Linked DNA regions of Homo sapiens. The protein of the gene in region 1 interacts with the protein of each later gene in a pairwise test. Each region holds a gene or a part of one and is shown on either strand. Other genes may lie near its edges.

Region 1 (9,644 bases):
GTTGGGCCTGACCAAGCCAGCCATGCCCATGCAGCAAGCACGACCTGCACAACCACAGGAGCACCCTTTTGCTTCAAGCAGGTGAGAGCCCAACATGGAGTGTTACACGTATTGTGATGGACATGCAGATGATCCATGGGAGTAAGGGAAGAAAAATATTAGAATTTGTATTTTCTTATTATTAGAGAAAAAGATAAATGATTAAGCCTAATCAATATTCAGTGTTTTGTCAAAAAGGTTTGGAGACCACTGTGCTCAATTGCTGTTTTTAGACATTCCACATCTGATGTCCTTTTTGATGCTTAAGTAAAACTGGAAAAACTGAAAAGACTTCTTTCATGTGTCCTCAAACATACTTATGACCGGGTATTCACTTGACTCAGCCCATTGAGTGCCTAGACTGAGCTAACAAGCTCGATAAAATGCATTGCCCGACATGCTGAAGACAACCTCTTACTTTCAAGGCTTAAGAGAAGCACAGATTAGAATGATGAGGAATGATGAAGATTGTCCACATAAATGGACCTCACATAGACTGAACTCATGTTAGGCATGTCCTTAGGATTTTTTTGCTGTCTAAAAATTAATTAAACTGAATTGCTCCTTTTCCAGACAATTTTTTTTTCCGTGCAACATAAGTAAATTGCTAAGTACTGGGCTTTATATTCCTCAATAAAACTGCTTTAAATTGTTTTGTGTTAGTAGAGAGATAGCTTTGAAGAAAAAAATTACCAGTCAGTTACTACTCTGAATAATTATCTTGAAGAGCAGTAATTATGTGGCACCTAGTGTTGAAGACCAGAGTACTTTATTCAATCTGGGTTGATGTGTCTGTTAAAATCTTGCAGATTTCTGCAGCCTGTTCACAAGATTGATATGAACCTCACTGATCTTCTTGGGGAGCTACAGAGGGACCCATGGCCAGTAACTCAGGGGAAGAGACCTTTGCGATCCACTGGTGTGGCTTTGTCCATTGCTGTTGGCTTGCTGGAGGTAATTTAAAATTTACCAGGACCTCTCAAATCATACAAATGTGCTCTCAGAAAATATATTTGTTGGCTTTGTTTGAAAATCACTTGTGATCTAAGTCAACCGTCTGTGTTAATGTATCAGAAAGCATTTGAGGCATCATTATCATTCACGTTGAGGGAGCCCCTCAACATTTTGAAAATGCCAAAAGTTTTCATTGAAAAACTAAGAATTAGAGCAATAGGGAGCACTCAAACAGCGAATTAATAAAACTGTGCAAACCCATAAGGTTGGAAGAAGACAAGTGCTGCTTTTCTGCATTATCATCTGTATTATTCTGCATTATCACCACTTTTTAGGACAGCTGGAGAGAATGCATCTTTGGAGTATTTCTATTGGGAAACTGAAACCATACTAAAAGGTGAGGCTGTATACTTCTAACATGCTGCCATTCGCTATTTTAGGGCACTTTTCCAAACACAGGAGCCAGGATCATGCTGTTTACTGGAGGTCCCCCTACCCAAGGGCCTGGCATGGTGGTTGGAGATGAATTAAAGATTCCTATTCGTTCTTGGCATGATATTGAGAAAGATAATGCACGATTCATGAAAAAGGCAACCAAGGTAGGTGCTCTTGGGTATGGGCTGTAATTCTGAAAGCCCATTGTCAGGTTTGGGCTGCTCTGGAGTGACAGCTACTTTGCCAAGGTCATGTGTCATGGTCAGCAAGACGCTGTTTCAGAGACAGTTTTCCAATCTTAGCTGCTGTTAAATTATTGCTCCTACTTTCAGACCTTAATTAGAGTGGGTGGCCTTAAAACTACTCAAAGGGTTTTGAGAATGAAAACTATATTTTTATTTTATTCAGATATTTTTGAAAATGATTTCCAGGCCAGTCCCGGTGGCTCACGGCTGTAATCCCAGCGCTTTGGGAGGCCGAGGCTGGCAGATCACTTCAGGTCAGGAGTTCAAGACCAGCCTAGCCAACGTGGTGAAACCATATCTCTACTAAAAATACAAAATTTAAGCCAGGAGTGGTGACTCACGCCTGTAGTCCCAGCACTTTGGGATGCCAAGGTGGGCGGATCACTTGAGGTCAGGAGTTCGAGACGAGTCTTGCCAACATGGCGAAACGCCTGTCTGTACTAAAAATACAAAAATTAGCTGGGCATGGTGGCATGTGCCTGTAATTTCAGCTACTCGGGAGGCTGAGGCACGAGAATCCGTTGAACCTGGGAGGCAGAGGTTGCAGTGAGCTGAGATCGTGCCACTGCACTCCAGCCTGGGTGACGGAGTGAGACTGTCTCAAAAAGTAAATAAAAATAAAAATACAAAAATTTGCTGGGGATGGTGGCGCACGCTTTTAATCCCAGCTACTTGGGAGGCTGAGGCAGGATGATCACTTGAACCCGGGAGGTGGAGATCGCACCACTGCACTCTAGCCTGGGCAACAGAGAGAGACTCTGTCACAAAAAGAGAAAAGAAAATGATTTACATGTTTTTATATTTGATTACCTCCTTCGGTAATTCAGGCATACCTTGGGAATAATGTCACTGTTTCCTAAAGATAGCTTTCCTCTCTTCACAGCACTATGAGATGCTTGCTAATCGAACAGCTGCAAATGGTCACTGCATTGATATTTATGCTTGTGCCCTTGATCAAACTGGACTTTTGGAGATGAAGTGTTGTGCAAATCTTACTGGGTATGTTGACAGTGAAAACCTGGGCAGAGTGACAGTGTTATTTTAAGGAAAGAGAAATTAGTGATGGAGCCATAGGAATGGGCAAGGCCAACTCAGAGAAGCTTTCAGGTAGCTCTGGGCTATGGTTTCAGTGACTGGGGAGGGCCTGTGGGCTCCTTGGAGAGGGAAGTAGTGATTAGTAGGAGGGCTCAAGAGTTCACTACAAATAAGTCGTTTCAGAGTAACTTATTTCTTCCTTAGAGTTGTTAACACTTTTACAGAGACCAGGCCAAGAAAGCAAGCAGCATGGACTATCTGGCCTTCATCAGGGCACTTCCTTTTGAGAATTGGGGAAAACAGGGTCTGAATGCTGAAACAACTAGGATAAACCTGGCTAAGTGGCCATACTTTGTGACTAACTCCAAGTGCACTCAGCCTAGAGGTTGTACTGACTCAAAGCCTGAGTCAGTATTGTATTCACAGGCCAGAGTGTGGAGCAGTGGTTCTCAACATGTGGTGGTGTCCAGATTTGCAGCCTTAGGGGCTCCTGGGAACTGATTGGAATTGTATATTTCTAGGCCTTACCCAGACCTCCTGAATCGGAAACCCCGGGAATGCAGCTCTCTAGGAGATTCTAGGGCACATGAAAGTGTAGGAACCACTGATGAGCACTGGTCTGCAGCTGCCTACGTATTGTTATCACCAGGGGAACTTTAAAAGCTACACTTTCTTTAGGTCTTGTCCTCAGAGATTCTAATTTAATTAGCATGAGGTGCAGCCTGGGCATCAGCATTTTAAAAGTTTCTCCCGTGATTCTAACATAGAGCCGAGTTTGAGAACCATGCAGCATCTTGAGCCTCACTCTAGACCTGAATCAGAACCTGCATTTGAACAATATCCCAGGTGATTTGCATGCACAGAAGTTTGAGAAGCATCATAGAGCTGTGGAATGGGCCTGAGAGTCTGCATTTCTAACAACCCCACAGGTGATGCTGCTGGTCCCCAGTGAGTAAAAGGAATAAAAGGTAGAACCAGAATCAGTTGGAGTTGTCCTAGAGAGCAGCAGATGAGTTAGGTGATAGAATTAGGGTCCCAAATGATACTGATGTAGCTATCTCAGTAATCCACATTTAATAGTATGAATTCCTACCACGGCCTTCCAGGAGTTCTGACTCGGAATGTCCATAGAAAAGCTTTAGTGTATTTGTGAACATCCCTTAGATTGTATGCTAGTTTGTGTGAATTTTTTCTGTGAAGAGTTACCATCTGTTGCACACATGTGTTAGTATAGCTCAAGGTGAGCCAACAGTGTGGGATGACTTCCAGCAAAGGCAAGGTGATTCCAGGCTGTGCTATAGGAGAAGATTATCTTCAGGGAAGACCATATTCTTGGTTTCTTTGGTGCTAGTCACACCTTATCCAAATACATTGTTTTCTGTTCTGAACATTGCAATTTCAAGGGGCAATAGGAGATGAATTGGAGATGTTTGAAGAAGAGCAGTGGTGGAGAGTCCTGGAAACTGTCATGTGAGGAATGATTGAAGTAGCTGGAAAAGATTAAGCTGAAGACACATGGGGGTGTGAGAACTGTATTCAGCAGTTGAGGGACTTCCCTGTGAAGGAATCTGATTTGTTCTGTATGTGACCAAAGAGTGGAACTAGAACCAAACCAGTGGGTGGAAGCTGCTGGCAAATGAAATTTCACTCAATATCAAGAAGGGCCTTTCTTAACAGAGCTGTTCAAACACAGAATGGACAGCTTGGGGAGGAAGCTCCCAATGCTGGAGGAGTTCAAGCCTAGTCTGGATGTAACTTGGCAGGTATTTTGCAGAGGGTTTGGTTGAGTGTTAGTATTAGAGTTGTGTGAATGTCACAGAAAACCCACAATAAGTTTATTTCTCTGGCGGTAGGCAGTCCGGGGCTGGTATGTTGCTTTCGTCATCATTACGGGCTGAGGCTCCTACTAAGCTGCTCTACCACCATTCATATGCCATCTGTGGCTCAAGACAGTTGCTGGAGCTCTAGCCATTTACAGCAGCAGGAAGGAGGAAAGGTCAGAGAAGGATTGCTCTTCCTGGAGGAACACACTCCACATATAAAGGACACAGCAATAGTCAGAACGCACATGCCAACAGAGGCACATGGCCATAGGCAAGGCAGGCTGGAAAATGTCATTGTTCCAGGAAACTAAGGAAGAGGTAGATATTTGGTGCCAAAGAGCTGACAGACGGTTCAGGCACTCTGAGATGGCCGGACCAGATGATCTTTCTTGTGTTCTTCAAGATTCTGAGATCTTGTTTTATGAATGACGTTTGGAGGCATAACTTGCGTCAAGCTGTGCTTTTCTGTCCAAATGCATGAAATGCTGACATTTTGCACAATGTTTTCCTCTAACTTCAGTAAGGGATTAATATTAATACTCATGAGTTGGAAAACATAATTCTTGTAAAGTCAAGAATTCAGTATTTTGAGGCAGTAAATTAACCTGAAAAGGATTTCCCACAGGCCTGGGTATTTTCCCATACCAAAGAACTGTGAGAGGAATTAGAGCTGTTCTTAAGGCTTCTGTTTAATGCTTTAGAAGTAGTTTCTTTGCCAAGTATGAATTTAACATGCTGTTTTTATTTTTTTAATTTATTTTATTATTTATTTACTTATTTATTAATTTTTTTTTTGTTTGAGAAACAGTCTTGCTCTGTCGCCCAGGCTGGAGTGCAGTGGTCCGATCTTGGTTCGCTGCAACCTCTGCCTCCTGGGTTCAAGTGATTCTCCTGCCTCAGCCTCCTGAGTAGCTGGGATTGTGGCTACTAATCTTTGTGTTTTTAGCAGAGATGGGGTTTCACGATGTTGGCTAGGCTGGTCTTGAACTCCTGACCGCAAGTGATCCGCCCTCCTTGGCCTCCCAAAGTGCTGGGATTACAGGCGTGAGCCACTGTGCCTGGCCTGTTTTTTTATATTTAAATTAATCAGTGGCTCTTTTGGGGACCTGGTTTCTTTTTTTCTTTAAATTATTTTTGTAAATACTGAGGGAGCATCTGAATGGCTTTCAATCTTCCTAATATTCACTTGATTTTTTTCTTCTTACCTAGAGGCTACATGGTAATGGGAGATTCTTTCAACACTTCTCTCTTCAAGCAGACATTCCAAAGAATCTTTACTAAAGATTTTAATGGAGATTTCCGAATGGCATTTGGTGCTACTTTGGACGTAAAGGTACGGTAAACTTTTTTTTTTTTTTATGTGGACTCACTGTACTGCCCAGGCTGGTCTCAAACTCCTGGTCTCAGGCAATTTTCCCGCCTCAGCGTCCTAAAGTGCTGGGATTATGAGGCATGAGCCACTGTACCTGGCCATACTTTTAAAACTTCAATGAAATTATAGTGTTCTTACTTTTTCAATCAATATCCAGACTTCTGGCAACCTCCACCTGCTGGACATGGGCATGTAAAAGCCAATTAAAAGGATCTCAACCAAATGGCTATTAAAAGCATGTTATTCACTTTATCCCTTTGCTTCTTGAGGATGACCTATATATTTATTTATGTTCTAAGTAACAAGCTGCCTGGTTCACCCTCAGGCTCTGCTCCACCCTGCTTCAAGGCAGTAGGAGATAGAAGAGGAAGTAGGGTGGGTGTTATGAGCAGCACTGTGGCCTGAGGACAGGGGCAGCCACACGGTGGTCTGCATCCACCCAGCCATCAGCATGGCTCACTGCATTGCACAGAGACGTGGTTATGTTTAATGTCTTCCTGAAGAATAGCCAAAGTACTCTAAAATAGCACTGGGCCAGGCATGGTGGCTCATGCTTGTAATCCCAGCACTTTGGCAGGCCGAGGTGGGCGGATCACCTGAGGTTGGGAGTTCGAGACCAGCCTGACCAACAGGGAGAAACCCCATCTCTCCTAAAAATACAAAACTAGCCGGGCGTGGTGGCACATGCCTGTAGCCCCAGCTACTTGGGAGGCTGAGGCAGGAGAATGGCTTGTACGTAGGAGGCGGAGGTTGCGGTGAGCCAAAATCCTGCCATTGCACTCCAGCTGTGGCAACGAGTGAAACTGTCTCAAAAAAAAAAAAAAAAAAAGACAGCATTTTGAGATTTTTTTTTTCCCATGTAGGGACTCATGGCCCTGATACAGCTGATTCTAAGTCATTGAGAAAGCATTAAAAGAGGGTGTTAGGCCAGGCACGGTGGCTCATGTCTGTAATCCCAGCACTTTGGGAGGCCAAGGTGGGGTGATTGCATGAGCTTTGGAATTACAGACCAGCCTGGGCAACATAGCAAGACCCTGTGTCTACAAATGATTTAAAAAAAAAAAAATTAACCTCGTGTGGTGGTGCACACCTGTGGTTCCAGCTACTCAGGAGGCTGAGGCGGGAAAATCACATGTGCCCAGGAGTTTGAGGCTGCAGTGAGCTATGATCATGCCACTGCACTCAGCCTGGGCAACAGAGTTGCCAGTTGGCGGGGCAGGTCAGGGGCCGTCATTAGAAGATACGATTGGAATTATTACTTGGAGAATTAGAGATAATTATTAAATCATCTAGGTTAGACTTTAAACCATAATCTTAAATGCTTGAGGGTTTTCTTTTAAAGATGGACTTTTGAAATGAATTCACATTTTAAAAATCTAAGTATGTTGGCCTTGTCGTTATATTGGAGTTCATGAATTAAGTATTTTTAAAGCAACACAAAACAGTATGTTCTCTGATTAGGTATATGCAAATAATTATGGATATACATGAATGTGAATATATTCATACAAGGGATTGGAAAAGAATGTAGTATTGTTAGAATTGTTATCTACATGTACAGTAATTTCCAAGTTTAAAAAGTAAGTTGTGAGAGTTGAAAATGCTCATGTTTCAAGTGTTTCTAAGGGTGGATTTTATTAAAGTTCTAATCACAGTGGCTGAGGAAAAGTTTGTAGGACTAAGCAGTTATGATCCCTGTGGAGTTTTCTCTTGGCAGAATAGTAGTGTTATATTTTCCCTCTAAGCTTTCATTGTGGCCATGATGACAGCAGGGTGGATTGAAGTGATCTTTAACTTTACACTGTCACATATTTGTTATAGACCTCTCGGGAACTGAAGATTGCAGGAGCCATTGGTCCATGCGTATCTCTGAATGTGAAAGGACCGTGTGTGTCAGAAAATGTAAGGAAAACAACTCCATCACCCTCACCTCCTGCCCCGGATTTAACCCGTCAGAAGTGTCAGAGCATGATGATCTCACATGTGTCACCTGTTGGATGTGTCTGCAGTGACAGGAGAAGGGCTAACCCTCACTGATGACTATACTCGGAGAGGTGGTGTTATTCCATCTGTTCATCCAAAGGGTTAGAGAGAAGGAAACTGAGGCCCAGAAAGGTTCAGTATCTTGCTCAGGGTCAGAACTGACATGAAGGAGTTAGAGCCCAGGTGCCCCTGACTCCACCACCCATGGTCGTTGTGCCAAAGCCACGGCATGCTGTTCAGCACAAGGCAAACATTCAGCACAGTCCTTCCAGAGTAAGCCTATTGCTCATTGCCCTTAGAGGTGATACGTTTGTCTCACTCAGCTAATAACAAGCCTTTTACAACAGAGACCACCATGAGTTGGTGTGGAAGTGGGTGACACTGCTGTGTGTGCAGACATCTGTTTTCTCTAGTAATAGTTTTTGAGAACAATTTAGTTATCATTTGAGATGAGCGGCTTTGCTTATTGTCCACTTCCTCTGATTATACTTTACTTGCTAGGAGGCAAACCATTCGGTTTGGCAAGGCCTCTCTAAGGTGGTCCTGGGCTGGGGTTACACAGTCATGTTCTTCCCTCATTGTCACCATCAATGGGAGGGTAGACCATAGAGCCAGATGTGGATCCAAGGTGCAGGTTTACACCCCGCACCTGGCCCGAGCAAAGGACTTATTTGCTCTGTGATTCAGTATCCTTATCTGGCAAATGGGGATAATAACAGTGCCCACTCTACAGCATTGTTAGGAGGTTTAAATGAGTTGGTTCAGGTGAAGCAGTTAGTGCCTGGCACACTGGAAGTGTGGGTCTTCTTTCATGTTGTCAGCAACAAACGTTCTTGGGTGACCACATAAATTAAACTTTTGTTGAGCTTGGCAGAGGCAAGGTGATTTGAGAGCACATTCCTGTAGCCTTCTGAGTGAGGCAGATTGCTGCCCTAAAGCCCATCTGATGAGTCATTCATTACCCCCAGAGTACTAAGGGGCTTGTACCCCTATTTCCTGGCAAGGCTTTGGAAGGCTGCCTTGTTATAAAATATTTTTCATGGACTTAAAATCTGCCTGCTGAAGGCTTCTTGAAGTAGTTTAAGAAGGTATTTTTATGAATTAGTACAAACTAATTAATATTTCTAGTAGAATTCAGCCATGAAAGTTTTGTTTGGGGAATGAGGATGCAAAGAATAGGAAAATACAATTTTCAGACATACTGAGTGATGAATTTCTATACCTACCATTTAGTCATTGATTGTTAACATTTTGCCATAATTGCTCTGTTGTCTTGTTTGCCACATTTGCTTTATCTGATTTTCATTTATTTGCCACATTTGATTTATCAACTTTTTTTTTGCCGACCTTTGAAAATAATTTGCAGATATCATGACAGTCCTTAAGCACGTCAGTATGCATCTTCTAAAAATAACGATGTTCTCCTACCACGATGTCATTATCAAACTTAAGAAAATAATAATTTCCTAATATCTAGTTCATATTTTTTTCCTAATTTCCCCCCAAATGCCCTTTGTAGCTGTTTTTACCCCAACTGGCATTGCATTTGATATTACAGCCTTTGTAAAGTGAGAGTCTGGGTTAAAGGTGTGTTTACATTCAGGCAAAGCCTTTTTGCCAAGCATTGTTCCTGGGCAGTGTGTACTTTATGCTTGTGTCACATCCAGAGGCACTATGTCTGCTGTCCCGTGTTACATGTGCTGAGTTAGATCGCTTGGTGATGGTGGTAACTGCCCCACTGCCTTTCTACTGTAAGGG
Region 2 (5,016 bases), on another chromosome or scaffold:
CGTGTTCTTCCACCCTGTGTCCCAGGTGGCTACTACCTGACCAGCCTCTCTGCCAGCCTGGCCCTGCTGAGTGGCCTGGGTCAGGCCCACACCCTCCCACTGAGCCCCGTGCAGGAGCTACGGCGCTCCCTCAGCCTCTGGGAGCAGCGCCGCCTGCCTGCCACCCACTGCTTCCAGGTAACAGGCCCTCCACCGTGTCCTCAGAGCCAGACGCCATCCCCGCCTTTCACCTTCCTGTCCTTGGTGAAGAGTCCAGACTCTGTAGACAGATCCTGGGTTCTAATCCTGGCTCTGCCACTGGGTTGTGGGGACTTGGGCGAGTTACTTAACTACTTCGTGCCTCAGTTTTCTCATCAGTAAAATGGGGTAATAGGACCTACCTCCTGGGGTTGAGGTGAAGATTAAATGAGTTAATGCAGGAGAGTGCTTGGGGCACAAATTACTCACTATCAAATCTTCATCTCAGGCTTGTGAGCGCCCCACTGGGCTGTCCTTGCACCTGCGGCTGTGGCCCACAAGCCGACCCCTGGAGCACATAGAGCTTTTGCCGCTTGGTTCTCCCACTGGATCTCCACCTACCCACCCTGTCCCTGCACAGCCCAGAAAGCTGATGTCTCAGCTTTGGAGCCAGATGCATGCCAGCCGGGGCTGAGTACTTGTTTTTGCTTCTCCTCCTGCATAGCACCTCCTCCGAGTAGCCTATCAGGATCCCAGCAGTGGCTGCACCTCCAAGACCCTGGCCGTGCCCCCAGAAGCCTCGATTGCCACCCTGAACCAGCTCTGTGCCACCAAGTTCCGAGTGACCCAGCCCAACACTTTTGGCCTCTTCCTGTACAAGGAGCAGGGCTACCACCGCCTGCCCCCTGGGGCCCTGGCCCACAGGCTGCCCACCACTGGCTACCTCGTCTACCGCCGGGCGGAGTGGCCTGAGACCCAGGGGGCTGTGACAGAGGAGGAGGGCAGTGGGCAGTCAGAGGCAAGAAGCAGAGGGGAGGAGCAAGGGTGCCAGGGAGATGGGGATGCTGGGGTCAAAGCCAGCCCCAGGGACATTCGGGAACAGTCTGAGACAACTGCTGAAGGGGGCCAGGGTCAAGCCCAGGAAGGCCCTGCTCAGCCAGGGGAACCAGAGGCAGAGGGAAGCCGGGCAGCAGAGGAGTAGCTTGAAGTGGCCAGAAGGGTCATTCGGGGCGGGAGACCCTGAGCCTGCTGAGAAATCCTTTTAGCGCCAGCAAGCCCCACCCAGGGCCCTGTCCTGTGTCTGCCACCACCTTTGTCTGATACTTGTTTCCAGGGAAGCTGGGGGAACTGCCACATCTGAGGAACTGGAATAAAGATGAGGGGGCTTCGGGGGCCCCCAGACTGTGTGCCCAAGGCCCCTTGCCTCTTGTTCTTCTCCCCCAGCTGAGGGTGAGCCAGCCTGCAATGAGGGTGTGCCAAGTGGGGGCGAATCCGACAGATGCCCAACCTCTGACGTGGGGAGGGTGACGGTCTCAGCTCCTTTTACCCTTCCCCTCATGGGCATGGCTGAGGCAGGGCTCCACCCAAGTATCTCCCACCAGGCTGGGACTTCCAGACCCTAAAAGGTTCCAATGGCTCTTAGGTGTCAGGAGGATTTAGAGAGGCCACAGAACAGCAGCAAAGGCTTGGGGCCCACCCCTGTCCTGGACACCAGAAGGACCTGCACCTGCAAGCCTCAGTACTCTCATCTGTAAAGTGGGGACACTATTGCTGCCCTGCTCGGCTCCCAGAAGTGTCCCAGTGATCAAAATGGGTGATTTTGCTACAAGCAGAGCTCATGGCAGAAAGGGAGGGAGAGAGCTGGGCTGCTAACTCTCTCCCGGAGTCCGCTCTCTGCCAGACAGGGCTCCCACCTGCTGATGCCCAGTTCAGGGAGGTTATTCCCCTGGAAATCAGGCCCTGGGGAGAAAGTACCCAAGTTACAGTCTCTCCCCAAGATTTGGAGTCCTCCCAGGCCCTCCAGCATCTCTGGGGAGATCCACCAGCTGGCAGATAAGCTTCCAGAATGGAGAGGGGGCTCAGAAACCATGCTCTCTGCACTAAACTCTTGGCCCTCACAAAAGCTTTACTTGGCCATGACTTGTTGGGCCCACTGAGGGTCAGGAAAGTGACTCCCAGGATGTCATATAGCAAGTCCTTAAGGGTTCCCCCGCCCAAACCAGGGCATCAGGTTCCAACTCCACCCTCCATTCTAAGCCACCCACAAAGGCCGGGGCAGCCCCCAAGGAAGCCCAGAGCAGGCAGCAAATCCAAACAAGGAAAAGTGCCGACCACCAACCACGAGGGGGTGTGCACGGCCCGGGAATCTGCCGAGAGGGTGACCACCCAGGGGTGAGGGCGCCTCCAAGGCTGCAGCAGCAGAGGGGGTCCCGGGCCTTGCAGTCCAGCAGCATCAGGCAACCTGGGGACAGCGCAGGGGCCAAGGCCACTGGCCCCCAGGTCCCTTAGATTCTGGGGTCTGGGTAAGGCCAGCCTCTTGGGGGCCATCCCCAGGAAGGAAGGAATTGTCCCCTTATGGAGGATGACCCCAGAGGCTCTCTCCTCGGGCACTGAGCACAGAGGGGACGTCAGCCCAAATGTCAGACATGACAACTGGGAGGTAGAAATCGTGGACATTGGCTTTTTGGGTTTTTTTGTTTGTTTGTTTGTTTGAGATGGAGTTTTGCTCTGTCGCTCTGGCTAAAGTGCAGTGGTGCCATCTCGGCTCACAGCAACCTTCGCCTCCCAGTTCAAGTGATTCTCCTGCCTCAGCCTCCCGAGTAGCTGGGACTACAGGTGTGCACCACCACACCTGGCTAATTTTTGTGTTACTAGTAGAGACGGGGTTTCCCCATGTTGGCCAGGCTGGTCTCAAACTCCCGACCTCAGGTGATCCGCCCGCCTTGGCCTCCCAAAGTACTGGGATTACAGGCGTGAGCTACCACACCCAGCCAGACATTGACTTTCAGATGAGCAGTCCAGATACAGCCCAGTTGCACGGCTCCCATTTTTTTTGTCACTAGGCCACCAGCAGCTCTTCCCTCCCCACTTCCACGCCCTCCCAAGGTTCTCGCTGATAGGAAGTGTCCCGTTGGCTCTTCTATTCCCCTCCCTGTTTCACCACTCACCCCTAGTGCCTCACACAGTCCAATGCTGAGCACAAATGCCATAGGTGTTCAATAAATGTTGTTCACTGATTGGAGTTTGATAACCAGGAGTGAGGGACAGTGAGGCAGAAACCTGGGGAGTATAAGGGAGGACTCGGTTCTGGGAATCAAACACGGGATGTGTCAAGCTCAGTCCCAGAGGAAGGACCTGGAATGTTTGTAGAGGGTGCTCGGAGGATCCCAGGGGCCGGATGTACAACTGGCCTCATGGGAATGAGGCTCTGGGGCCTCTACAAGCCCTTCCCACCCTTGCCAGGCTCAGCATGACCTGACCCCCTCCCTGCCCTCCCCAGTGATGGGGCACCACAGGGAGCTGCTGCCTGGGTCTTGTGGTTTTTCTTCTCAAGAAACTCTGGGCTGGGCCTGGTGGCTCACGCCTGTAATCCCAACACTTTGGGAGGCCGAGGCCGGTGGATCACCTGAGGTCAGGAGTTCAAGACCAGCCTGGCCAGCATGGTGAAACCCCGTCTCTACTAAAAATACAAAAATTAGCCAGGCGTCGTGGCACACACCTGTAGTCCCAGCTACTGGGGAGGCTGAGGCAAGAGAATCACTTGAACCCGGGAGGCAGAGGTTGCAGTGACCCGAGATCACACCACTGCACTCCACCCTGGGCAACAGAGCAAGACTCCATCTCAAAAAAAAAAAAGAAATGAAAAGAAAACAAAAAAGAAACTGATTGGTCAGGGGTCCAGGCCAAATCAGCATCAACAAGATTATGATCCTGGGGCAGAGCCTCCAGGCAAGGCAGACAATGATAGGCCAGTGTAAGACCAGTCTCACTAGCCCCATTTTACAGATGAGAAAACTCAGACTTGCTCAGGGAAAGTGCCTTGTTACAGGACAAAGGGCTCAGACACCAGGTTCTGTAGTCCTTCAAAGCAGAGGGGCTGATTTATATGTCCACTCAGCACATCTATCAAACATCTGTTATAGGCCGGGCAAGGTGGCTCAGGCCTGTAATCCTAGCACTCTGGGAGGCCGAGGTAGGCAGATCACCTGAGGTCAGGAGTTCAAGACCAGCCTAGCCAACATGGTGAAACCCCATCTCTACTAAAAATATAGAAGTTAGCTGGGCAAGGTGGCTCACGCCTGTAGTTCCAGCTACTTGGGAGGCTGAGACTGGAGAATTGCTTGAACCTGGGAGGTGGAGGTTGCAGTGAGCTGAGATCACACCACTGCATTCCAGCCTGGGCGACAGAGCAAGACTCCAAAAAAAAAAATCAAACAACAACAACAACAACAGAAGTGTCTGTTATAGACCAAGCACCAAGCGCCCCCAGCTCCAGCCAAAGGGAAATAGGTCACATCTCTCCATTTGCATGGCGTGATCTGGGTGGTAACTGAAAGCTCACTGTGTCCTAGGGATTCCATGCCACCCCTTCCCCAGCCTTTGTCCTTATGGAAAAAGAAGCCAAGGCTCCAAGAGGTGACATGCCTGGCCCAGCGTCCGCTGCTGCAGGGCAAGACTGGAACTCTGACGTTTGGATCTATGAAAGAGCAGTCGGGTCATTTCCTTACTTGGAAGCATTGACCTTATCACTCCTAAAGTCACGGTGGTTCTGTATGCAAGTTTATTGTCTGTTTCCCTCACTAGAATGCCAGAGCCACCCCCACCTTGTTCGCAGTTAAATCTCAAGGGCCTTGAACAATGGCCGGGCCGGAACTGGCACTTGTGAATCTATGTGGAATGACTGATTCGGAAAGACGCAGCCTAAACTGTCCCTCCGCTTTCCTGGGTTGCAGGGTGGCGCATCCTTCATTGCTGCCACCAGGGGGCAGAGCGCACCTCATTCCTGGCCACGTGCAGGGTCCCCTCTGCTGAGGCGGAGGACCCAGGGGACTCAGTGCT
Region 3 (8,322 bases), on another chromosome or scaffold:
TCAAAAACAAAATAGTCCTCTATACAAGGACCATCAACCAATAAGACCACCTTTTATAGTTTATATTCCTCCAGAATTTTTTCTATGCATATGACAATTTATATAATTTTTATTGTTTTTACAAAAACAGGATATGGTTTTGAAACTTGCTTGTTTCAATTAGTATATTCTGGACACCTATTATATCAACATATAACATAACATTTATTGATCCTTACTGTGTGCCTGGCACTGTGCTAAGGGCTTTACATGGATTACTTTGTTTACATACAGGTTTACCTCCTGCTTTTTTAATTGTTAATAGTACATTAATAATGTAATATTCTGTAGAACCAATGTTCCTTTATATAGCCAGACCCTATTGAAGATAATATAACAAACAACACTGGCCGGGCGCAGTGGCTCATGCCTGTAATCCCAGCACTTTGGGAGGCCAAGGCGGGCGGATCACAGGGTCAGGAGATCAAGACCATCCTGGCTAACACGGTGAAACTCCGTCTCTATTAATAATACAAAACATTAGCTGGGTGTGGTGGCAGGCGCCTGTAGTCCCAGCTACTCAGGAGGCTGAGGCAGGAGGATGGCGTGAACCTGGGAGGCGGAGCTTGCAGTGAGCCGAGATCACGGCCACTGCACTCCAGCCTGGGCAACAGAGTGAGACTGTCTCAAAAAAAAAAAAAATGAAAAAAAATAAACACTAAAACACTGTTAAACATACACACTTGTGAACAGAAGTAGAAAATTTTTAATAGAATTGCTGGCTCAAAAAATATGCACATTGTTTATTTTAATAGATGTCAAATAGCCCCTGGACAACAGTGTGTCAGTTTGTTCATCTGACAACATCTGTTAAATTCCGAACTGCTGGAATATAGGTGTCATCCAGTTTTACACTTGCAACATCTGCCTTGTCTCTTTTACCGCGGTTGTTTGGGACGGCTAGCTACTCTTGGTTTGTGTCTGCCTGAGTTCTCCTTTTGGTCCAGTTAGTTTACCATCTCTCCTCACCCTTGGCCTTTCTCCTTCATCCTTTATCAGGGGATTACAGTGACGCAATTGAGACGCTGCTCACAGCCATTGCGGTTATCAAACAGTCCCGGGTTGCCAATGATGAGCGTTGCCGTGTCCTCATCTCCTCTCTTAAGGACTGTCTTCATGGCATCGAAGCCAAGTCCTACAGTGTGGGTGCCAGTGGGAGCTCTTCCAGGTGAGTTGGTGATTGTGTCCTCACCTACCAGCCCCAAGCAGCACTCTTCCAGGGATAGGGAGTGGGGACAAATGGAGCCCAGGGAATCTGGGAAAGACCTGGCCGAAAGTCTGGACGTTAGCCTTCATGTCTTTTTGGGGAAGAAACTAATCAGATGCTTTCATTAATAAGTGTTGTAACATCTGGAATCTGGTGGGTGAGGCAGTGGGCTCATGTAGGAAAAAATACAGACAGATATTTTTAAGAACATGGGTTTTGGAGCCCTACAAGCTTGGATTGGAATCCCAGTTCTGCTGCTAACTATCTGTATGACCTTCTTGTGTATGGAAGTTAGTCAACTTTCCAAGCCTTATTTTTCTCATTTTCTAAAAAAGGGACACTGATAGTATTTATCTTACAGACCTGTTGTAAAGATTAGGTCAGATAATCCATACAAAATTATTAGCACTACACCTGATAAATTAGTTCTCAACAGATAAATTTACCTGTTAATCATCTTCCCAAAAAAGAGTAGTCCTCAAAGAGCTAAAATCCTCAGACAGCAGGCCCATGATAGAGTAATAGAGGAATAGTTTAGGCAAATATCAGAAGACACCAAAACACCACATTCTTGGAAAGAAAGTGGTAGGCCTTCTGAGTGAGGCTGAAGGATCTTTCTAATAGGAAAAGACATCGCTCCCGGGAAAGGTCACCTAGCCGGTCCCGGGAGAGCAGCAGGAGGCACCGGGATCTGCTTCATAATGAAGATCGGCATGATGATTATTTCCAAGAAAGGAACCGGGAGCATGAGAGACACCGGGATAGAGAACGGGACCGGCACCACTGAGAAAGGTGGGGAGAAGCCCCGTTCCTGGCTGCTGGGGGATTTTTTATTAAAAAAAGATTTATAGTGAAGAATTCTCTCTCTTTAAAGCAAAAGTAAATGCAGCAAGGGTAGGGGGAACTTCTGATTTACATAACTGGAATTTCAGGGCAGATTTTCTGCACATTTATGGGGAGTCTTACCCTGAGATTCAGCTGTTTCTGCTTGTTTCTTGACTGCCTTAACCTGGTATCTGAGTGAGAGTATGGTGTCTGCATTCAGGTACCAATTTGAATCCCAGTTTCTCCACTAATAATTGGCCATATTACTTTCTGTTCCACAGTTTCATTTGTAAATGAAGATAATAAAAGCAACTGTCCCAGTGACTTGCTAAGTTTTAGTGAGAGAGTCCATGTAGACCATTTAGCACTCATGGTACCTGTCACATAGTAAGTTCTCAATAATTAATAGCCATTGTTATTATCATTATGAACTTTCAATTTAAATTAGGAAAATTGACTAAGAATAGTAAAGCCATTGCCACTTAGTTTTCAAGCTGCAACATTAATGATTTTAAGAATTAGGCTTGGCATGATGGCTCACACCTATGATCCCAGCACTTTGGGAGGCCAAGATGGGAGGATTGTTTGAGCCAGGAGTTCGAGACCAGCCTGGGCAACATAGGGAGACCCTGTCTCTACAAAAAATACAAAAATTAGCCAAGTGTGGTGGTCCCAGCTACTTAGGAGGTGGAGGTGGGAGGGTTGCTTGAGCCTAGGAGGTCGAGGCTGCAGTGATCTGTGATTGCACCACTGCACTCTGGCCTGAGCGACAGTGAGACCTTGTCTGAAAAAAGGTAGGGAGGAGGGGCGGGTGGGTGCCTCATGCCTGTAATCCCATCACTTCAGTAATTTGGGAGGCAGAGGCTAGAGGATCACTTAAGCAGGAGTTTGAGACCAGCCTGAGCAACATAGTGAAACCCTATCTTTTTTTTTTTGAGACAGAGCCTCACTTTGCCGCCCACGCTGGAGTATAGTGGCATGATCTCAGCTCACTGCAACCCCCACTTCCCGGGTTCAAGCTATTCTGCCTCAGCCTCCCCAGCAGCTGGGGCTACAGGCGCGCGTCACCACGCCCGCTAATTTTTCTGTTTTTAGTAGAGGCGGGGCTTTACCATACTGGCCAGGTTGGCCTTGAACTCCTGACTTCGTGATCAGCCCACCTTGGCCTCCCAAAGTGCTAGGATTACAGGCGTGAGCCACCATGCCTGGCCGAGACCCCATCTCTTTAAAAAAAAAAAAACGGTTTATTTAAAAGATTTTGAAAATTAATATGCTTTAGTCAGAGAGGAGAAAGCTGATCTGAAAAATTATCTTTAACAGGTTTAGAGGCTTTGTGGTGGATAATTAACTTCAACGGAAGGGTTTTTTGCTTTTGGAAAAGACTTAGTGACAAGGTTGTTTATTTTGTTGTTGTGTTTTTTGTTTTGTTTTGTTTTGAGACAGAGTCTCACTCTTGCCCAGGCTGGAGTGCAGTGGCGCAATCTCGGCTCACTGCAAACTCCACCTCCCGGGTTCAAGCAATTCTCTGCCTCAGCCTCCCGAGTAGCTGGGATTACAAGCGCCCACCACCACGCCCGGCTAATTTTTGTATTTTCAGTAGAGACGGGGTTTCATCATCTCGGCCAGGCTGGTCTTGAACTCCTGACCTCGTGATCCACCTGACTCGGCCTCCCAAAGTGCTGGGATTACAGGCGTGAGCCACCGCACCCGGCTGTTTTTTTGTTTTGTTTTGTTTTGTTTTTGTTTTTGTTTTTTTAATAGACACATTGTCTCACTCTGTCACCCAGGCTGGAGTGCACTGTCATGAGGCACCATCATGGCTCTGTAACATCAACCTCCTGGGCTCAGGTGATCCTCCTGCCTCAGCCTCCTGAGGGCTAATTTTTAAATTTTTTGTAGAGTCTTGCTTTGTTGCCCAGGCTGGTCTTGAACTCCTGGCCTCAAGTGATCCCCCTGCCTCAGCCTCCCAATGTGCTGTGGGATTATGGGCATGAAGCCACTGCGACTGGCTGTAATTTTCTTTTGAAGCAAAATGAAAGCAGGAAGGTTGGGATAAAAACTCTTAAGTAATGGAGAAGTTCAGTTAAGATTGGTTGGATCCAGGGGCTCTGGCTGTGTCATCCAGACTTTATCTGCATCTCTCAGCTCTGCTTTTCTCTGTTGCTTTCATTCTTAGACAGGCTCCATATTGGTAGGGAGTCAGAGGGGGTGCTGTGTCTTTAGGTTGCATCCTACCAGCTTAGCAATCCCAACTGAAGGAAAACTTCTGGAAAGATTGTTTCTATTATATAAGCATATAGGAGCAGGTGTTGTCTCTGCTTCTATGGAAATCTTTAAAATAGGCCAGAGTGGCTAGGGGTCTGTCTGTAGTTCTTGGAGGCTACTGCGTGACCCAGGTAACTTCAGGGTCCTTTCTTAATTTTGTGGTTGCAGATTTATAAGTCTCTAGGACTTCCCATTTCTCTGTCTCACATCAAGTACATTAGGAAGATGTCCTTGGCCGAGCACGGTGGCTCACACCTGAAATCCCAGCACTTTGGGAGGCCAAGGTGGGTGGATCACGAGGTCAGGAGATTGAGACCGTCCTGGCTAACATGGTGAAACCCCGTCTCTATCCCGACCGAGACCATCCTGGCTAACACGGTGAAACCCCATCTCTACTAAAAATACACACAAAAAAATTAGCCGGGCATGGTGGCAGGTGCCTGTAGTCCCAGCTACTCAGGAGGCTGAGGCAGGAGAATGGCATGAACCCGGGAGGCAGAGCTTGCAGTGAGCCGAGATCGCGCCACTGTACTCCAGCCTGGGCGACAGAGTGAGACTCTGTCTCAAAAAAAAAAAAAAAAAGATGTCCTTGATTATTTGCCTGCTTGATCTAAAGTAATGGTAATTGAAAAGGAAGGTGAGGGGAAAGAATAGTAGTTCTTTTTGGTGTCTTTGGGATGGCGATATCTGGATGAAGAAGGACAAAGAAACTCACCACCTGTGAGCCCCTATAGTTCATGAGCAGTAGCTGGAATGTAAATAGTTGGAAAATTAGCAGTATTTTGCCCAGTGACAACCTACTAAAAACCAAAATACTCCTTTTAGGTTTGGCTACTGCCCTCTGTCTTGTTCTTTGGCCATTAGCTTAAATAGATTTATAGCCAGGAATTGTTTTTATCTTCTCCCAAACAAGTAAGTGGAAAGATGAAAAATTACTAATATTTTTTGTCTCTGTTCTCTGTTGTTAGCCACTCATTTATTCCACAAAATCCTAGAGTGCTTAACATCATTGAAATCTAGGTTAACTCATGTAGAATCAACAGTTAGGCTGTGGGCTCCAGGTACTTCTTTCTAGATTTTGCAACAGGTTGAGTTTGGGGAGATGCCCATGTATCCTCTGGAAAAGCAGACGCTATTGTAGATGGAGACCACAAACAACTTTGGCCTAATTCAGTCTCAGGTGGGCATGAGGGCAGGCATTAGAGTTGGTCTTGGTCCAGTCCTAACTCCCTTTTCTTGTTTGAGTCTGCACAGTTGCTAGTGTTACTTGTGGGTTGAAAAGCACATGTAGGCTACAGTGTATGTCTTTTGGAGCTGACTGGGATAAGAGTGAACAGGAAGGTGATGATTGACCTGTGCAGAGCATGCACTGTCGTCTTTGGGGCTGCATTCAGTTTAGTAGTTAGAACATAAATGCATGTCACCATTCCTGATGGCTTTGCTCCTGACAGCCTTATGACAGGGAAATTACCAGCGAGATCCACTGATCCAGCAGTAGTTTGAGAATTAAACATCTCAACCTGAGTCTTTAGCTGTCACTTTGCATTATTTCTTCCACTTATAAAATGGGGCCAGGCACAGTGGCTCATGCCTGTAACTTCAACACTTTGGGAGGCCGAGAGGGGCAGATCGCTTGAGCTCAGGGACCAGCCTGAGGAACATGGCAAAACACTCGTCTCTACCAGAGATACAAAACTAGCTGGGCATGGTGATGTGCTCCTGTAGTCCCAGCTACTTGGGGGTGCTGAGGCAGGAGGAGTCCCAGCTACTTGGGGGCACTTAGGTGGGAGGATCACTTGAGCCCGGGAGATAGAGGCTGCAGTGAGCCATGTTTGTGCCACTGCACTCCAGCCTGGGCAATAGAGCAAGACCCTGTCTCAAAAAAAATAGTAATAAAAATAAAATAAGATGAGACTATTTCTCCCATTATGAGGATAACTCTCTTTTGGTAACTTTGAAAATGCTGTAACAATATTGCCTAGAAAACAGTCATTTGACTTGTGTAGGCCCATGACAAGATGGGAAAAATTAACTCTGAGGCAGGTTTTCTACTTCCTCACTTTTCCTGGTCACCCGTTTGATATAGTGGTTATTGCATCTGAATAATAGTCTGAAAGAACTGAATCAGGCACCCCAAGAATGTCAATTTCTTACATTCTCACCCTAAGGACTCTTAATTCCATCTGTAGTGACCAAGTTATGGCTTAGGAAGTTTCATGTTGGGAAGATGGTACATGGTCCTCATTTATAGCAACCTTTTAGTTAGAAATGAATCATATTTATATTCTATGATGACAGCTGTTCCCTGAGAGTGAAAGGTACATTTTGTCCAGAGGCAGCAATAGAACAGTAGCCTTCTTTGTCCATCTTTTCTCGGCGTAAGACCCAGTTCTGGGGCCTGAAGGCTAATTGGCCCACTTGAAGGAATCTCTGATTTCTGCCTGCATTCCAACATTGGCACCAAAATGTAGCCATGGAGATTTAAGAATTCAGTGCTATGGCTTGCTTCTCTTGGTGTACAAGTTATCCTCTGCAACCTGTGTCTTCAACTTTTTGTAGTTCTCAACTATGTCAGTTATCTCATTATTTTAGGACATTATCCTACTTGAAATATAGTCATTCTCACGTCATTCCTGTCCTCGTTATCCATTGAAAACTGAGCTTTCTCTTCAATTTGGATCGAATTCAAAGATTCAGAAGCCCTAATGGTATGTAATTGAGTGCACTGAGGGCTTCAGTTTTCCCTTAGAGAAAATGGGACAAATACCAGCCTGCGTAGGTGTTTAGACAGGCCAGGAAGGCTTAGGCCATATAGATTCTGAGGACCCAAGCTGAAAATAGTGTCATTTCGGTGTGTACAAGGATCAGGGAGGACGTAGATGTCTCCTCTAGGTTTTATAAGGCCACTTTACAGAAGTAGTTATATAAAAGGTAAACATTTGTGCGTAGGCTGTGTTGCCAGTTTGGGCATTAGGAGAAATTCTAATTCCTCATTTTCCCTTTGGCTATTAATTCTGTTTAATATGCTCAGACTGACCATACCACCACCCGCAGATGGGTATTGCAGCATTGGAACAGGTGCTGAGTATAGTAGGAACTTTGTTTGGTGGCCATGTGACAGGTGGCTTAATAGACCCTTTTGGGTAAAACTTCTTAACTGCATTTAGGTTTCTTCCATGCTCTGCTTTCTGTTCTGGCCTGGCCACGTGACTCCTGCTTAGTGTTAGTATGTTTCCTGGTTCCTCACCTATGGCTGTCATGCGAGGAAAGACTTAAAATCTCGAGTTTTAGTACACTTGGAAAACCTCTGGGGCTGTGTTTGTGTACACACATACTCATAAAGGCACTTTTAGCCAGGACTCCTTTAAAAAGAAAAAAGAAGGATTTAAGAGTTTCCTGTGTATGTGCATCCTGCCTGCTAGGGCCTCTTGGGTGTTTGGGGATTAATGGATTTGGTTGTGTACATACTTGTTTTCTTACCACTAAACCTCCCATTTCCAGATTTTTCCCCCTCCCCTTAAGGTAAGCTATGACTTGCACAGAATAGACTTCTTAACCTATATTTAAACTCACCTTATTCCCTTTTAGCAACTTTTCTTGAAATATGTCACAGTTTCCATACTTTTGCAGCCAAAGTCTCCTTTTCAGTCGAACGTTCAGAGACCTCATTTTGTTCTGTTTTTTCACCGAATCTTTATAGTGGATGTCACTGCTTTTTTTCTCTCTACTCACAGTAGCTTCTCCTCCAGCCATTCCTCACCACTTCTAGTGTCAGACAGTCCTGCTTTGTTTTCCCAGACTTGCATTCTCTGTCTGCATTCCTTACTTCTTATGTTGTAGCGTTAGAATATGTGTGTTTTATATAAGCCCCTGTCATTCAGAAAGTAACCTCTAACTTGTGTTTTCTTTCTTTTCTTCTGATGTTCTCATTGCAGGAGTCTGGTTGGAAGCAAATGTTTTTTTAATGGACTTGCATCTCCTCACCT

What was found. Proteins that work in one complex are often made in the same cells at the same time.
Region 2: the proteins of SEC23B (region 1) and RIN1 interact in binary tests that used the Homo sapiens proteins (3 or more experiments, as listed by UniProt).
Region 3: the proteins of SEC23B (region 1) and CPSF7 interact in binary tests that used the Homo sapiens proteins (3 or more experiments, as listed by UniProt).

The regions. Positions count from the first base shown.
Region 1 is NC_000020.11:18,524,940-18,534,583, forward strand, and holds part of SEC23B (protein transport protein Sec23B), read left to right. Parts: coding exon 1-81; intron 82-848; coding exon 849-993; intron 994-1,433; coding exon 1,434-1,592; intron 1,593-2,556; coding exon 2,557-2,672; intron 2,673-5,740; coding exon 5,741-5,864; intron 5,865-7,724; coding exon 7,725-7,805; intron 7,806-9,644. UniProt on the Homo sapiens protein: Component of the coat protein complex II (COPII) which promotes the formation of transport vesicles from the endoplasmic reticulum (ER).
Region 2 is NC_000011.10:66,328,419-66,333,434, reverse strand, and holds the end of RIN1 (ras and Rab interactor 1), read left to right. Parts: intron 1-25; coding exon 26-177; intron 178-682; coding exon 683-1,159; 3' UTR 1,160-3,194; downstream 3,195-5,016. UniProt on the Homo sapiens protein: Ras effector protein, which may serve as an inhibitory modulator of neuronal plasticity in aversive memory formation. Can affect Ras signaling at different levels. First, by competing with RAF1 protein for binding to activated Ras.
Region 3 is NC_000011.10:61,404,654-61,412,975, reverse strand, and holds part of CPSF7 (cleavage and polyadenylation specificity factor subunit 7), read left to right. Parts: intron 1-1,038; coding exon 1,039-1,207; intron 1,208-1,870; coding exon 1,871-2,033; 3' UTR 2,034-2,038; exon of another isoform or gene 2,039-2,395; intron 2,396-8,271; 3' UTR 8,272-8,322.